Homo sapiens: one gene and its partner. The protein of the gene in region 2 interacts with the protein of the main gene of each other region in a pairwise test. Each region holds a gene or a part of one and is shown on either strand. Other genes may lie near its edges.

The links.
Region 1: the proteins of MC2R (region 2) and MRAP2 interact in a two-hybrid assay, tested with the Homo sapiens proteins (one large-scale study listed by BioGRID and IntAct).

What each region holds. Positions count from the first base shown.
Region 1 is NC_000006.12:84,040,144-84,043,961, reverse strand, and holds part of MRAP2 (melanocortin-2 receptor accessory protein 2), read right to left. Parts: intron 1-3,818. UniProt on the Homo sapiens protein: Modulator of melanocortin receptor 4 (MC4R), a receptor involved in energy homeostasis. Plays a central role in the control of energy homeostasis and body weight regulation by increasing ligand-sensitivity of MC4R and MC4R-mediated generation of cAMP.
Region 2 is NC_000018.10:13,908,850-13,912,667, reverse strand, and holds part of MC2R (adrenocorticotropic hormone receptor), read left to right. Parts: intron 1-3,818. UniProt on the Homo sapiens protein: Hormone receptor primarily expressed in adrenal cortex that plays a key role in regulating adrenocortical function. Upon corticotropin (ACTH) binding, facilitates the release of adrenal glucocorticoids, including cortisol and corticosterone.

The DNA of each region.
Region 1 (3,818 bases), on a different chromosome or scaffold from region 2:
ATTAATCTATCCCACTACATGCCGTCTTCAGCAAACACATCTACTAAGTTCTCATAAATATGCCCTTCACAGAGAAAGAGCACTAGTTTTGAACACAGTAAAATTATTATGAGTCCATTCAGATCAACAAGGATATTTTAAACACTGTTACTTAACCATGAAAGATTTAGTAGAGGTCAAAAATTCAAGGACTGTGGACTGTGCTCTTAAAGAATTCAGGCTTGTATTTCAAACTATCCTCTGCCACACAATGAACTTCATTCTTTCAAATACACCCACCCACCCACTCACCCCACACCCCTCACCCCCCCATACACACACAGCTTGAGGGACAACACAAAAGCCTGAAGACATAGACAGTAGAAACAACAGGGTCATTAAAAAAGGGAGGGCTCATGATGGTACAGGAACCTGCAGCGGGGGAACCCTCAAAATGGTCCTCTGAGCTTTTGCCCATTCAGTTCCACCTGCAAGCTGGACTTCCTCTCCCTCCTTTCCAGATTCCTGTCTACCCTTGAGGGTAGGGATCAGATACTACCTCCTCCAAGTAGATCTCTCCAACTATTTCACTACATTGAGGATCTCTCTCTTCTCTTAAATCCCATTATGTGGATTATCTGAATCTCTCATTTTAGTAGCAAGAAAGTATACATCAGACTCCCCAAAGACTAGACTTGGCCTCTCACTGAGTCCTCATACTGTTTTATATAGCTGCTATTCTAAAACGGCCTGACTAGGTGAATTAAAACTTTAAAGATTTTAAACTTTCAAATTAGACCATTTTAAGAATACCAGGGAATCAACCACTCTTTAAGTTCTAATTAGTGGAGTTATTGAAAGAGTTGGCAGAATAAGACTAAGAAGAGAGACTGGCCGTGTCTTAAATCACTGTGAGGATGACTTGCCAAACAAGACTACTTTGTATTTTTGGCTTGTGGTATCTGTCTCCAAACAGCACACACCATATCACACACTATTTATTATGGTCCTGAGCTGAACCATTCTTTTAGCAAACAAGTGAAAAGGAGAGGTACCAGGTATTTCCAGCTCTGTTCCACAGAAATGGAAATGTAAGTTAAAGCAGTGGTTTATTTAAGAGCTTGAGACACAGCAGTAGAAAAGCTGAACGTTCTAATGACCATCTTATCTTCTGAGGCCTGGGCTCTTAAACTAGGATGTGTGGCTCTTGTGGTTTCTCCACCTACTGCACCCACTGCAACCTCAGGACAATCAATTACAAGCAAACCAGAGTTTGGGGTGCAAGGGCAGTGCAGGCTCAAGGCACCCCATAGCCTCCTCATCTTTCAGGGAGGGGCCTGGCCAGAAAAGAGGGGCTTTATAAAGTGAGGGCAAGAATATAGTGTCCCTCAGCTTGCCAAGGTCTAAGGGTCCCAAATAGTCCCCAGAGTCTCAGGGCATACCTGGTTCATCTTCCTGGAGCATCAATAATACAAGACCTGGAGGATTATGTTTTATATTAAATAAGTGCAGATATGTTACAGAGTAAACTGTAAGAACCAAATAAATGTTTGCTCCTGCCACCTTTGGCCTCTGCTTCAGAATCCTAGAAATAAGGATTAACCCTCCTCTCCCATTGGGATAATTCAGTGGAAGTTTTTAGTCCATTCTCATACTGCTAATAAAGACATACCTGAGACTGGGTAATTTATAAAGAAAAGAGGTTTAATTGATTCACAGTTCAATATGGCTAAGAAGGCCTCAGGAAACTTACAGTCATGGTGGAAAGGGAAGCAAACACATCCTTCTTCACATGGCGGCAGCAAGAAGTGTGAGCAAAAGGGGGAAAGCCCCTTATAAAACCATCAGCTCTCATGAGAACTCACTCACTATCAGGAGAACAGCATGGGGATAACTGCCCCCATGATTCAATTACCTCCCACCAGGTCCCTCCCACAACACATGGGGATTATGAGCACTACAGTTCAAGATGAGACGGGTGGGGACACAAAACCTAACCATATCATTACACTCTTGGCCCCTCCCAAATCTCATATCCTCACATTTCAAAACACAATCATGCCTTCTCAACAGTTCCCCAAAGTCTTAACTCATTCCAGCATTAACTCAAAAGTCCAAGTCCAAAGTCTCACCTGAGACAAGGCAACTCCTGCCTATCAGTCTGTAAAATAAAAAACAAGTTAGTTACTTCCTAGATACAATGGGGGTACAGGCATTGGGTAAATACAACTGTTCCAAATGGGAGAAATTGGCCAAAACAAAGGGGCTACAGGCCCCATGCAAGTCTGAAATCCAATAAAGCAGTAATTAAATCTTAAAGCTCTGAAATAATCTCCTTTGGCTCTATATCTCACATTCAGGTCATGCTTATGCAAGAGGTGGGCTCCCATAGCCTTGGGCAGCTTCACCCCTGTGGCTTTGTAGGGTACAGCCCCCTCCTGGCGCCTTCACAGCTGGCATTGAGTGTCTGTGGCTTTTCCAGGTGCACGGGGCAAGCTATCAGTGGATCCACCATTCTGGCGACTGGAGGACAGTGGCCCTCTTCTCAGAACTCCACTAGGCAGTGCCCCACTGAAGACTGTGTGTGAGGGCTCTGACTCCACATTCCCTTTCTGCGTTGCCCTAACAGAGGTTCTCCATGAGGGCTCTGTCCCTGCAGCACACTTCTGGCTGGACATCCAGGCATTTCTATATATCCTCTGTAATCTAGGTGGAGGTTCCCAAACCTCAATTCTTGACCTCTGTTTACCCATAGGCTCAACACCAAATGGAAGCTGCCAAGGCTTGGGGCTTAAACCCTTTGAAACTACAGCCTGAGCTATACCTTGGCCCCTTTGTATGCCTTGGCCCCTTTTAGCCATGGCTGCAATGACTAGGATGCAGGGCACCAAGTCTCTAGACTGCACGCAGCAGGGGGGGCCTGAACCCAGCCCACAAAACCATTTTTTCTTCCTAGGCCTCCAGGCCATGGGTGGGAGGAGCTGCTACAAAGGTCTCCGACATGCCCTGGAGACATTTTCCCCTTTGTCTTGGCAATCAACATTTAGCTCCTTGTTACTTATGCAAATTTCTGCAGCTGGCTTGAATTTCTCCCAGAAAATGAGTTTTTCTTTTCTACCACATTGTCAGGTTGCAAATTTTCCAAAACTTTTATGCTCTGTCACCTCTTGAACACTTTGCTGCTTAGGAATTTCTTCTACCAGACACCCTAAATCATCTCTCTGATGATCCACAGATCTCTAGGGCAGGGTAAAATGTCACCAGTCTCTTTACTAAACCATAGCAAGAGTCACCTTTGCTCCAGTTACCAACAAATTCCTCATCTCTATCTGAGACCACCTCAGCCTGGACTTCATTGTCCATATCACTATCAGTATTTGGTCAAAGCCATTCAGCAAGTCTCTAGGAAGTTCCAAACTTTCCCACATTTTCCTGTCTTCTTCTGAGCCCTCTACATCTCCAGGAAATTCCAAACTTGCCCACATTTTCCTGTCTTCTTCTGAGCCTTCCAAACTGTTCCAACCTCTGCCCATTACCCAGTTCCAAAGTCGCTTCCACATTTTCTGGTATCTTTAATAGTAACTCCCCACTACCTCAGTACCAATTTATGGTGTTAGTCCATTCTCATGCTGCCAATAAAGACATACCTGAGACTGGGTAATTTACAAAGGAAAGAGGTTTAATTGACTCACAGCTCCGCAGGGCTAGGGAGGCCTCAGGAAACTTACAATCATGGCAGAAGGGGAAGCAAACACATCCTTCTTTACATAGCGGCAGCAAGGAGAAGTCAGAGTGAAGAGAGGGAAAGCCTCTTATGAAACCATCAGTCTCATGAAAAC
Region 2 (3,818 bases):
ACAACGTAGAAATTCATCTGTCCTTGAATTTTTCCTATTTCAACAGAGTATTGATTAATTGATTAATAATAATCTACAAGTTTTATTATGGTGCTATGTTGTTATTTTGTTTTATTTAGCACCAAAACAGCCTCAGAGTCCTGAGCCCCTCAGTTCCCAGCTCCTCCCACAGCTCTTGGCCCAACCTGACCCGGTCCTCCTACCCATACCTGTTTCAGAGCTAGGCTTGTCCTGCTTCCAAACACTCAGCCTCTCAGGCTCTTTGGAATAACCAAGCGAGCACAGACCTTGGAATGAGGCAGATTCGCAGCTGGGTGACCTTAAGCAAGTAACCCAACCTCCCTGAGCCTCCGTTTTCTTATCTATAATATAGGCAGGGGAGCAGGAAATAGGAACACCTACCCTTTATGTGTAACTGGAGCATTAAGAGAGAATACCTTTCACTCTGCCCTGTCTCCAACCTTTAACATTGCAAGAGAAACCATGGCAAAATCAAATTGCCCTTAAAGTGCAGAATTGTAAGGATGTGCTGAGGTATCCTGGAATCTGCTGTTTTACCTGGTTGAGTATTAAGTAAAATTGCTGAACATGCATTGTGGGCCCAACACAGTACAGAATGAATTACCTAAAGCACTCGTAAGTGAAGCCAATTCTTTTCCATGCCATCCACACCATGGAGCAGTTCTGACCCCAATTTGCAAGTGACCAAAGGCTCACCTGTCCTCTTTCTCAGCTGTGCATGTCTTACCTCCTCAGCTAGATGTTCATAGGCAGTACGGTGTTTCCTGTATCTTTTGGATTTCCAATGACATATAACCTAAAATTGGATCCTAGAGGTGCTAAAAACTGCCAATTCTTTAAGTGATTACTTGGATTAAAGCCCCCAAAAGATCTTAAATCTTTCTTCCTCCTGCCCTCCTCATATGCCCCAATCTCCTTTTTCCCAGTTAACATCCCCCAGACCCTAGGATGGAGACCCTGTCATAGATGGCGCAAAGCCAGTGACTCCAGAGCAAGGTCCAGAAGCCAAAGCTACCCGCTGCACTCATGGTGGCCCTGGGGTCTGATTGGGCTGGACTCGGCCACTTTTTAAAGGTGGGGCGAATAGGAGCTAGGTAAGGCAGAGAAGTCTTCCAGGCACTCGTCCAAAGATACCCAGCAAATTTTAAAGCCTTCATCTGGGAGAAAAAGCAGATCTTTACTGACATCCTTTTATTTCATGGCATTTGTTTGGCTAACTAAACCAGTTATAAACTAGTTTATGCTTTTTCAAAAGAGGAAATTTTGAGCCATTTCAGAGATGAGAATGAAAATGGGACTGTGCAGGGAAGAATTTAGTACTAGTTTTTAAGGTAAAACAAGGACTTGATGGAGTTTCTTTATCTAATAAAAAGGGAGCTCCAGGAGAGGCTGCAGGCTGCCTGGGTTGCTCCCTGACACTCCGGCCCCTGCTCTCGGCTGCCCGGCCCTCAGCTCCTCTCCTGTCCCTGTGTCCTTTGGCCCCTAGTCCCTGCTACTGTTACTGGCCTCCTTGCTCTAGCAATCACCGCAGCTCTGGGGTTTTGCTGCTTCGCACTCTCACCTAAGGCAACTGCACCTGCCTGTGTTCCCTGCTGAGCCACGCTGACTGCTTTTTATAAATCATAAATCATGGGATTAAGTGAGCCAATGTCAACCTGGTCTCAGGTGTAAAAGATAAGAATTCAAAAAGGAAGCATTTTCTGGGGATGATGCTTTCACCCATGATGGGGTGGTGACTGGTGTTGGTTTTGTAGGAGAGACACTGGGACACAGGGGCATCTGCCAGCTCCCCCACTGTGGTTGGCATGATTTGGGGCAAACACTGTTGTGATGAGAAGTAGATGGATTGAGAGATTCCAAGCTGCCTCTCTATCCTCCAGATGCCTGGTGCCCTGAAGGGAGCCCTAGTGCTGAGTGTAACTGGAGCAGCCTCAGCCCAGCCAGGACTAGACCAGGGACCAGCAGCCCCTGGTCAGGGAACCTTCTGGCAGCAGCTGTCTCTCCTCCAGGCAGGCTGCAGGAAGCTGTACAAGCTCCCCCTCAGGCACTTTGTAGTATATGTTTTAAATACCAAAATCAGAAAACTTGCAAAACAGCAAGAAACACACTTTTTTAATCTTCTCCACTTGATCAACAGAGTCAACACAATCCCTGTCAAAAGTCCAGAAAGCTATTTTGAAGATGTCAATAAACTTATTCCAGAATTTCTGTGGAAAAGCAGATGAGCTTGAAGAGCCAACAAAACAGTGAAAAAGAACAACAAAGTCAGAGGACTGTCACTCCTTACTTCACAGTAAGTCTGAGTAACTCTCAGACTTACTCTAAAGCCAGTAATCAAGACAGTGTGTTCTTAGCAAAAGAACAGACAAATAGATCAATGAAACAGTAAGGACCACACAAATACAGGCCCACACAAATATAGCCAGGTGATTTCAACAAAGGCACAAAAGCAATTCAATGGGAAAAGGGTAGACTTTTCAACAAACAGTGCTGGAACAATTGGACGTTCATATGAGGAAAAAATTATTTTAAACATAGATCTTATTCCTTACAGAAAAAACTTAACGCCAAATGATCATAGACCTAAATGAAAATTACAAAACTTACAACTTCTAAAAGAAAACATAGAAGAAAATCTCCATGACACTGGATTTGGTGTTTTTAGATATAACATGAAAAGCATCATCCATGAAAGAAAAAATAAATAATAGACTTTATTAAAATTTAAATGGCACCCCAGTAGCAACAAGTACATTGAGCACTCTGATCTTGGTTTCTAATACCATTCTGCACTGGAAGAAATCAGGGATCCCTGGGGGAAGTGGCTTATTCTATGACTATGTCAGGAAATAACAAGTTGAGCCTGGAACATCTTGCAGTGCCAGAGAGTAAATAAGTGTTCCAGAAAGCCACAGCGATGCAGGTCTGGCACAGGACACAGGTGCCAACTGAGAGAGCTCCCAGTGGCCAAAGTTGGAACAATTTAAGCAATAAAACAAATCAAATAGCATTGGATTATAATCTAAAGTATAAAATAGTTGTCCATGCATTCATACTGATAGAAACATAGGATTGAATAAATAAATAAATAGGGAAGGATAGGCTAATCTCCCATGCAGAAGAACTCCAAATGGATTATGTAGACACTCCACCCTCAAGGAGGTGGGGCAGAACTCTCTGCTCTGTATGTGAGGGCTATGCATTCTGACTTCCTTCCAAAGAATCCATTATGGAAACAGTGTGCAGGAAACACTAACTGCAGTGGGGAAACCCGGCAAGCATGAACTCAGCCAGGTGACCATGGTTAGCACCAGTCATGAGTCACCTTGATAGCGTGTCCCTTGATGTGATGTAATGAGAATGATAGTTTACATCTTGTGGTCTTCCTCCCGCAAGGTCCATAACCCCAGTCTAATCATGAGAAAAATGTCACACAATTGTGGCAATTCTACAAAATGTTTGAGCAGTACTCCTTAAAAATTTCAAGGTCATCAAAAGCAAGGGAAGTCTGAGAAAATGTCACAACCAAGAGAAGCCTAAGGAGACATGATGGCTAAAGGTAATAATACCATGTCCTGGATGAGACCCAGAGACACAAAAGGACATTAGGTTAAAATTAAGGACATTTGAATAAAGCATGGACTTTAGTTAATAACAGTGTGTCAATATTGGTCCACTAGTTGCGATAAATGCACCATACTCAGGTAAGATGTTAACATGATGTAAGATGCTAAACTGGGTGTGAGGTTTGTGGGGACTCTACTATCTTTGCAACTTTTCCATAAATTTAAAACTGT